Regions from separate parts of the Homo sapiens genome. Here region 2 is linked to region 1. Evidence: fine-mapped expression QTL. Tissue or cell type: whole blood. Region 1 holds a variant in brackets; the other region holds the start of a gene. All regions are shown on one strand. Distances are between the middles of the regions.

Evidence for each region. PIP is the estimated chance that this variant, and not a neighbour inherited with it, causes the effect.
Region 2: it holds the start of DGUOK, and the variant in region 1 is fine-mapped to the expression of DGUOK in whole blood (TOPMed, PIP above 0.99).

The regions. Positions count from the first base shown.
Region 1 is chr2:73,961,013-73,966,219 of GRCh38, reverse strand. The region is part of intron 1 of DGUOK-AS1 (DGUOK antisense RNA 1); the gene reads left to right. Among named protein-coding and RNA genes, the nearest start is that of DGUOK-AS1, 18 kb to the left of the region's middle. The variant G/C (reference allele first, on the strand shown) is at 2,899.
Region 2 is chr2:73,924,464-73,929,572 of GRCh38, reverse strand. It overlaps DGUOK (deoxyguanosine kinase), which reads right to left and starts at 2,693. Exons shown (of 7, transcript NM_080916.3): 1 at 2,521-2,693. The coding sequence starts at 2,662. RefSeq lists an enhancer at 2,392-2,661.

The sequences.
Region 1 (5,207 bases):
TGAGGTCAGGAATTTGAGACCAGCCTAGCCAACATGGTGGTGTTTACTAAAAATACCAAAAAAAAAAAAAAAAAAAAAATTAGCCAGGCATGGTAGTGTGCACCTGCAGTCCCAGCTACGTGGGAGGCTGAGGCAGGAGAATCACTTGAACCCAGGGGGCGGAGGTTGCAGCGAGCTGAGATCATGCCACTGCACTCTGGCCTGGGCGACAGAGCAACGCTGTCTCAAAAAATAAAAATAAAAATAAATTTAAAAAAAATAAAGGTGTTTTAAGAAAATCATCTGATAGCAACATAAAGGGTGAGCTGGGAAGTGGAGTAGAAGGCATCTGTAAAGACACTCCAGAACCTTCACCAAGCTTCCACATACATTCTAATGGCTAGTGCCTGAAGGGCACTTTATGAAGGTGCAGTTGCTGAGAAGAGAAAATCTAGCCCCCCAGAAACATCTCTCCACCTGTTCAGGGACCCAGGGGCCAAAGGCACAGCTAAGATGCACCTGGTGGCCTCCACCTAGCAGTGCTGGCAAACTAGGTTTTCCTGCCCAGGCTACAAAATTTGGCTGGTAAATCCAGACAGGCAGCCAAGGAAATGCTTGCTTGCCTTCTTTTCTGAAAATCTAGTCTTATCTCCCTTATGTAATGGTTTGGTGTTATGCAGAGAACAGGCTCTGGAGTCAGGATGGACCTAGGTGTGAGTCCCAGCGCTGTCAGTTACTGTGGGACTCTCGTTGAGTTACTGAACTCTGAGCTTCAGTTTCCTCACTGGTAAAAACTGGCACCTTAAACCTCCTTCACAGGATTATTGAGAGGGTTGAATAACATTTAGAAAGTGTTCAGTAGGGTAGCTGGCACACAGTAGGCATCTGATAATCATCAACTCCTTTGACAATTTAAGAGTAGAGTCCAGGCCCCAAATTTCTTGCATATTCTCAGTGCTTAGTACACAGAAGGGACTTCCTCAATTGATGATCGTAATATAGAGCTCACAAATAACCCAGGAACCTGAGAAAGGGCGGAGCGTGTCTCCAGTCAATAATTTCTTTATTTAAAAGTCTATGTTAGGCACTCATGAAACAGCAATAAATAAATAAATGCCAGGCATTGTACTAAATGACCAAGACATGGTCTATGTCAAGAAGGTCAAGGCCAAGGACATCAAAGAGATGTCTCCAGACAACTTTCATTCAGGTATGACACGTTTGACAGAAGTTTAATAAACAGGGTGCTCAAGGGCACAAAGACTGGACATGGTGTGGGGTGAGGGAAGGGCTCCACAGAGAGAGGAATGGTGGGCTTGGGCCTGGCAGGGTGAGTAGTTCTTCCAGTGTAAAAGCTTGGGGTGGTGGGTGGGGGGTGGGAGAGAAAGAGAGAGAGAGAAACATTTTGTCATGTGGGAAAACACATCTGAAGCTATGGGTGGTCTCGTGGGGTTTATGGTAGGAGTGATGGGAGATAGGGTTATAAAAACATGGTAGCTCTCATACCTCCACATAGGAGAGGCTGAGGGGCAGCTCTCTGGTGGCAGGGGTGGGGCAGGTGACCTGACCTAGCAACCACTGTTCTTTTTTATACATCATTTAGTTGATGTGGCTTGGGGAAGAAATGATTACTGGTAGTAGTAATTGGGGGGCAGGGGAGGGGCCATTCCTGCCATTCCTAGGCATGGCCACTGCTACAATGGGGACCATATGACTGCTATGGAAGAGGAGGAGAGGTGGGATGAATGCTGGGGAGTCAACCACAATTTCCACTACACCTTCAACTAGAGAGACAGAAACAGGTGCAGAGAAGATTTGAAAGATTTCAGAGATGAATAGGCAGAATTTGTTGAGAATGAGTGTAAGTGGGGGGTCAAAGATAACACCAAGGTTTTTAATGTGGCCAACGGGGTGAATGGAGAAGCAGGGGAAATGGCTTTGCTGGCTGGGTTGGGGTAGGGTTGGTGGTGGGTATGCGGGTGGGGAGAACTGTTTTGTACCCATTGAGCATAAGGGATCCGGGTTGTGAAATCCATAGTTTGATATAGCTCTAGCTTTAAAAGACATCCTCCTGTTTGGGATTTGCTTCAGAATAATGAGAGTGGGGGTAGGCTGTAGGTGAAACCAGATTGGTTCTGAGTAGATAACCGAAGTGGGTGAGAAAGTCGAAGTTGGCGAGAAAGTCGAAGTTGGCGAGAAAGTCGAAGTTGGCTCATGCTAAGAAGGTAAAAAGCTGCCCTGCGACTCAACAGGCTGGGAGGACATTACACAGCTAAAGCCAGTCACAAAAGTTACCATGAAACAGTATTTCTCCCACGAGCACGTTGTAGCCGTAAAGTGTCATAATGACCCCTTTCCTTGTGTGACTACTGCTTTCTGACTCATAGAGAAACCTTGTTCTTTAAAATCATGAACTATCAGAAACTTTGCTGTGTGAAATGTTAAATGTTATCAGTAAAAACTTTGCTGTGTGAAATGTTAAATGTTATCAGTAAAAATTCCTTTTTTTTTTTTTTTTGGCCAGAAGATTCTAAGTCACTTTGACACAGAGAAGTTGTCTTGGTTTCCAAGCCAGGTTCAGAGTTTCACGTAAGGAGCTTCTGAACACAAATTCCATGTTTGTCTTAACTTTGTACTTTCTAGGGAAACAAACCTGAGTTCACCGAACAGTTCAGAACAGACTCCTTTATACACAGTCCTGCTTTGCTTTGCACCTATCCAAACAATGCTTCATTCAATTTTACCAAAACTCTAGTTTTCCTTAAAATCCTGTAACGGTATATTTTCCTGTTTGGTGAGATGCCCCACAGTTCCTCTGGTATGTGGTCTTCCTCATTGCAATCTGACCTTCTCAAACTCAAGGTTCGTTTCTGGTGATCTTAGGCTGATTGGGCTAGAATGTGGGTATGGGGGTACAGG[G/C]GTGCTTGATACCATTCCCTCTTGCATATGATTCACATTTTCCATAAAATTTCCAAGTTCATAAGAAGTCTTCACCCCATGAGAATAGTAGGAGCCATGATAGTGTTTGAGATCTGCGGAAAGCAGAATAGCAGCCTCCCTCCCACCCCGCAGCTTAGATTTCCCAGAGGGGGCCAGTGTAATCACGTGGGTCCTTGAAAGCAGAGAAGGATTCCTGGCTGTGGTTAGAGATGCAACACTACTGGCTTTGAAGATGAAGGGGCCACAAGCCAAGGAATGTGGGCAGCTTCTAGAAGACAGAAAAGGTAAAGAAACGGAGTCTCCTCTAGAAACTCCAGAAAGAAAAGCAGCCCTGTTGATAACTTGATTTTGTCCCAGTGAGACCCATGTCAGAGTTCTGACCTCCAGAGCTGTAAGATAATAAATGTATGCTGCTTTAAGCTGTTACATTTGTGGTAATTTGATAATGGCAGTGATAGAAAACAAATCCAAGATCACGCAGAGGGAGTGGACGAAGACAGAAATGAGCCAAGGGTACCTTGGGGACACCAACACTTTCGAGGAAAAGAGAAAAAGATGGCAGCCCAGGAAGCAGAAGGGGAGGCATCAAATGTAGGGGAGCCAGGAGAGACCCATGAAGGAGAAAGTGGTTCAGAAAATGTAAACTGCTATTTAAGTGAGGGCTGAAGAAGGTTAAATAGTATTAAAATTTTAAAGTGCATGTTATTTCGTTGCATCACTTCCTCTGTGATTCTGGTATTTGCATATAACAAACAATCTCTTTTACTTGAAATTATCACCTTCTGAGAGTTTGAGAACTTTCACAACCTTGATCCTTGTTATAAACCCATCAAGGTAATATTCAGGTTCCAGAACAGCAGGTTTTACCACATCGTAAGCCAGAAAGAAATGCAGCTATTTCTTATGTGTTAATCCAAATTTTTTGACGCTGGGAGTTGGCCTAAACCAAGAATAACAGCCATCCAGACTGGCCTGAGTGTAGAGTAGGGACCGTTTTAGTGTGACCTCCACTCTCTAGCGTCCACTTTAAAAACCCACGGTGCCCAAGGTTTCAGCCTGCCTTCCTGTGGTCCTAATCTGCACACTTACAGGCTCCACCCAGACCTACTTGTCCCTCCCCCACAATTTAAGATTCAAAATTACTGCTGCTCATTAATATGTTTACTCTCTACAGATGATCTCGGCTACAAATTTGGAAAATGACAAATATCACCTAGGTTACACTGTTGATGGCCCGCACTATCCTAGAGGATATTTACTTTTTTTTTTTTTGAGACAGAATCTCGCTCTGTCACCCAGGCTAGGGGGCAGTGGTGCAATCTCGGCTCACTGCAGCCTCTGCCTCCCAGTTCAAGCAATTCTTCTGCCTCAGCCTCCCGAGTAGCTGGGACTATAGGCCTGCACTACCATGCTCAGCTAATTTCTGATTTTTAGTAGAGATGGGGTTTCACCTTGTTGGCCAGGCTGGTCTCGAACTCCTGACTTCAAGTTATCCGCCCGCCTCGGCCTCCCTAGGTGCTGGGATTACAGGCTTGAGCCACAGTGCCCAGCCAACGTTTACTTTCTAAAAGGCAATATTTACCAATAGAGATGCTGAATTTGTAGACTTTCAGGCTTTAAAACTAGGTGAAGAGTGTAGTGGCTTACATCTGTAATCCTAGCACTTTGGAAGGCTGAGGCAGGAGAATCACTTGACACCAGAAGTTGGAGACCAGCCTGGGCAACATAGTGAGACAGTCTCTACTAAAAATAAAATAATTAGTGGGCGCGGTGGTGTGCACCTATAGTCTCAACTACTCAGGAGGCTGAAGTAGGAGGATGGCTTGAGCCCAGGAGTTCAAGGCCGCAGTGAGCTGTGACTGCACCACTGCACTCCAGCCTGGGCAACACAGTGAGACTGTTGTGGGGGAAGAAAGGAACGAAGTACTGATACATGTTACCACTTGGATGAACTTTGAAAACATTATGCTCAGTTAAAAAAAAAAGTTACAGGAGACAACATAGTATGATTCTATTCATATGAAATTGCAGGAATAGGCAAATCTACAGAGACAAAAGTAGACTGGTTGTTGCCTAGGGCTGGGAGTTGGCAGCAGGGAAACTTGGGGGAGATGGGGTATGGGCTTTCTTTTTGGGGTGATGAAAATGTTCTGGAATTGTGGTATTGGTTATACAGCCCCATGACTACTATACTACAAACTATTGAATTGTATACTTTATTTTTTGTTTTTATTTATTTATTTATTGAGATGGAGTTTTGCTCTTGTTGCCCAGGCTGGAGTGCAGTG
Region 2 (5,109 bases), 37 kb after region 1:
CATGCTCAGGGCTCAGTCCTTTCCATCAACACATAGTCTCTGGCATTAAATACCACCTACATTTACAGCTCCAGTCCGGGGAGACCCTAATTCTGAACTTACATATCCAATTACCTATTCAACACCTCTACTTGGATATTAATAGGCATGTAAAAACCTAACATGCTTAAAACCAAGGCTCACTTCTGTAATCCCAGCACTTTGGGAAGCCAAGGCAGGAGGATCAATTGAGCCCAGGAGATCAAGACCAGCCTGGAAAATATAGTGAGACCCTGTCTCTACAAAAAATATACAAAATTAGCCACGCATAGTGGCAAACACCTGTGGATCCAGCTACTCAAGAGGCTAAGGTGGGAGGATGGCTTGAGCCTGGGAGGCAGGCTGCAGTGAGATGCAATTGCATCACTGTATTCTAGCCTGGCAACAGGGCAAGACCACACCAAAGGAGGGGAAGCGAGGGGAGGGGAGGAAGAAGGAGAGGAGGAAATAAAAGAAAATCAGGAGTCTATCTTTCAAGTACTCAAGTCAAAATAATTGGAGTCATCATTGGCCCCTCTCTTTACCTTACACTCTGCATTCAACCTGTCACCAAATCCAATTGGCCCTATCTTAAAATATAACTAGAACCCAATCATTTCTCACCACTTCCACTGTTAAATTTTACTTAAAATGTAACTCAATTTTTGTTAACGTATAACTAGAATCCAATCACGTCTCACCACTTTCACTTTTCACAATACTATAATTATTGCAATACCACTTAACACTCTTCACTTTCAATGTTATCAGCCACAGTGATCTTTTTATAATCTAAGTAAAACTGTCACTTGACTCCTCAAACCTTCCAATGGCTACCCATCTCGGTAAGATTAAAAACCCATGATAAGGCCTATAAAATCTGGCCACCCCTTGGGCTTTTGCCCTAATTTCCCTCCCATCCTTGCTCACTCGACTTCAGTCACAACGATTTCCCTCCTATTCCCCGAACACACTTTCCACCTCAGGGCCTTTCCAATTGCTCTTCACTCTGCCTAGAAGATTCTTCTCCCAGGTATCCACGTGATTTGCTCCCTCATCTTCAGTTTTTTGCTCAGATGTCACCTTCTCAGTGAGGCCTTGCTTATTTTATTTAAAATGACAACTTCGGCCAGGTGCAGTGGCTAACGCCTATAATCCCAGCACTTTGGGAGGCCGAGGCAGGCGGATCACCTGAGGTTAGGAGTTTGAGACCAGCCTGGCCAACATGGTGAAACCCTGTCTCTACTAACAAAACAAAAATTAACTGGGTGTGGTGGCGGGTGCCCCTAATCCCAGCTATTCGGGAGGCTGAGGCAGGAGAATCGCTTGAACCAGGGAGGCAGAGGTTGCAGTGAGTCGAGATCGTGTCATTGCACTCCAGCCTGGGTAACAAGAGCAAAACTCCATCTCAAATAAAATAAAATAAAAACTTCCCTCAATTCTTCATCCCTAATTTTTCTCCATCATACTTATTACTCTCTAACATATTGTTCACCTTGCTTAATTTATGTTGTTTATTGTCCATCTCTCCCTACTTGAGTTCCATGAGAGCAGAGATTTTTATTTGTTCTATTCACAGCTGTATTCTCCAGGCCAAGAACAGTGCTGGCATATGGAAGTGGCTCAAAAGGTGATTTGTTGAATGAATAAAAAAAGAAATTCTCAGTTTGCTGCTACGTCTTCAGTACTCAACACTTGCTAAGCCCCTTTTAGGGGCTCAGTGACTTGGTAGATAAAAGTATCAAGTCAGAATTTATTAATATTAAATCGAAATGCTTTGCCTTCATTTTGCTTTCTGACTACTTTTTATTCAAGATACTGGATCTCACTCTTTTAACAAAATAATTTTTAATTTAATACATGTTTTTAAGTTTAAAAAGTGAGGTTCTTCTAAGAAAAGCCTTAAGAAATTATTATGCAACTAGCACAGGCACAGGGCAAAAATTGTGAATGTGGTATTTGAACGACTGAAATTTAGGAACTCTCTTCGAATAGGGTTGCCAGATAAAATACAGGACACAGTTAAATTTGAACTTTCAATGAGTGATTTCGTTGTTGTTTTGCTGTAAGGATGTCCCAAATATTGCATTGGACACACACTAAAAATTATTCGTTATCTTAAATTCTATTTTAACTGGATATTATTTTTAATTTCTGCTAAATATGGCAACCCTATCTAGGAGAACAAATAAACTGCACCCGCTTGTCGCTTCAATTTCGATCTATTACAAACAGCTAATACAATTCTTGTCCTATCCACTAACTGCGTGGCTTTTATGCCCCAACAAATATGTTCCTGTGGGCGGGTACTGAGGCCCGATATCCTAAAAACAAGGAGGCAAAGATACACAGTGCACTTTGCGAGGGGAAAGGCTCTCCTCGCAGCCCAGAAAAAGAGGCCGGCCGCATCAGACGCAGGCCATTCCGGGCCCAGCTCCTTTCCCAGCCTCTGTCGCCTGCGTGGCGGAGGCCAAGGCTTGGCAGCCGCTTTCCGGCCCTTACCAATGTTGCCTTCGATGGAGAGCCTTCGGGGCCCGCGCCCCGCGTGCAGGCCTCTGGAGGAGGAAACGCCCTCGAGTGGGCTCTTGGCCATGGAACTGAAGGGTGCTCGAAGCCGACTTAGAAAGAGGCGGCCCGCGGCCATCCCACCCACGATTCACACAGCGATCACTTCCGCCGAGAGCACTTCCGCCCTAGGTATCGCTGCTCACTCGCTCCAGCGCACCGTTGACGTAAGGAGATCGTCAGACAGGAAGTGGGTGGGGTTGAACATGCGGCGGGGTGCGCCCAAGAGACCGCTCCGCTATCGCGATGTTTGTAAAGAAGCGTTGAGTGAAGGAAGTTTTGCAACGGTGCAGAATTTGATAGTAAAAGGAGTTGCGGTGCGAGTGGTTTTTGTTCATTGGACAAATAACATTTTAAAAGACGTAATTCCACAATCCAACCACTTCATTTTTGTATAACTTTAAAATAAATTTTATAACTGAAGACAAAATTAAAAATAGAAATTGTAATTTTAAGAGGGGATTTCCCCCCCCCCAGGTGCTTGTTGTCTGGTTTTTATTTTAATATCGGAAGAAAATGGAAGTTTTAAAGTAGGAAAATGACTCAATCTGATGATTTACACAAATTTAACTTTTTCCTATTCCCTGTAATTCCCCTGCACAATGCTGGCATATTATTGACTAAATTAACAAATTAGATAATCAGTTACACCCCATCTCTTAGTTTGTGTCTTGAATAAGTAAATAAATGTTCGGTCAATCGATTTGCATTATACCCAAAAATCCCTTCAGGATAAGGTGGTGGTGGCTCAGGTATGTGACTGGAAATTGTTTAAACCTGGTAGGCTGGGTTCTTGGACGTAAGCAATGGCGAGTAGAGACTTGTATAAAACCTGAGTCCTGCTGTCGGTGAAGTGTGCTCTGCAGGAGGGCAGGGACCTAAGCTGCTGCCACAGGTGAAGCCGGACTGCCACACCCCGTCGTCATAACAACCTCAGAAGTAATGATTTACAAAATGTTGTCAAATGGTGCTTCCAGTTCCAATCGCTTAAATCACCAACAGTCAAAACCAGGAGTCAACAGGCCAAACCGGCCTTCAGGCAGCGCTCTTAGGTGTGGCAGGTTTTAGAAGACAAGGATCTGATTGCAAGGGGGCTGGGGAGGGGCCGGGGGCTGGGATACCTGTCTTGAAGCTGTTCCCATAAAAAGCACGGGACCTTTTTCTTATGTTGATGTATATATAGGATGGCTGAGGTCATGTTTATATATTAAGAACTTTTTTTTTAATCGAATTTTTTAAGGATAACCAGGGTGGGGCGTTAATGGCTACTGGAGCGGCTAAAGTCCTACCCATTCCCATCTCCACTCCAGCAGCCACTTCTGTTAAAACAAAACAAAACAAAACAAAACAAAACAAAAAACAAAAAAAAAACTGCTTACATTTCTTTACCTATGTAAACTCAGACTTGGAAAATATTCATCCAAAAAAGCTTGAGAGGCTCTCTGCCTCGCCAGGATCTTGCTGCCTCAGGGGTGTTGTGAAAGTTAAATGAGGAAGTTGTCTGCAGGCAGGCATTAATCTCCTAAAAGCTACGAGGCAGGAAAATAGGGTCTGGAGACAGGGAACCTAAGGCCGATTTAGGCTGACTTCCTAGAACTAAATCAAAAGGAAAACCCCAACTTTCTAGCCCAAGTAACAAAAGGACCAGAAGCTAATCCCTCTTCTGGGTGGCAGATAAAAAATTGAAAGTACCTCTGACTGGTCCCCGCGGGCAATCAGTCAGGCTGGTGGCAGGCCAAGTCTTTAGTTGCATGGGGTATAACTTCATAACTTTACTTCAGCCTCTGATTGGTCCCCTCCTGCAACCAATCAGACTGATCGCTGGCCACTACTTCATTTACATAGGGTGTACACCAGGTAACCAATGGGAAACCTCTAGAAGGTATTTAAACCCCAGAAAATTCTGTAATTGCTGCTTGCTTGGGCCCTTCCTACCGCAAGGAGTGTTCTTTGATGTACAATAAATCTGTGCTTTTGTTGCTTCATTGTTTCCTTGCTTTGTACGTTTTGTCCAATTCTTTGTTCAAAATGTCAAGAACCTGGGCACCCTCCACCAGTAACAGAGCTCCTAAAAATTATTTTTAAAAATTTTATGGTGAAGTGGCCTGGCGCGGTGGCTCACGCCTGTAATCCCAGCACTTTGGGAGGCTGACGAGGGCGGATCACGAGGTCAGGAGATCAAGACCATCCTGGCTAACATGGTGAAACCCTGTCTCTACTAAAGAGAGAGAAAAAAAAAAAAGCGGAGTGTGGTGGTGGGCTCCTGTAGTCCCAGCTACTCAGGAGGCTGAGGCAGGAGAATGGCCTGAACCGGGGAGGCGGAGCTTGCAGTGAGCCGAGATCGCGCCACTGTGCTCCAGCCTGGGCGACAGAGCGAGACTCCGTCTCAAAAAAAAAAAAAAAAAAAAATTATGGTAAAGCATAGTATGTAGTGAGGAAAAGAGGATGTGTTGTGCAGTGAGGAAAAGAGGATGTGTTGTAAGTGTACAGTTCAATGAAGTTTTCACAAATGGAATGACTGTTACC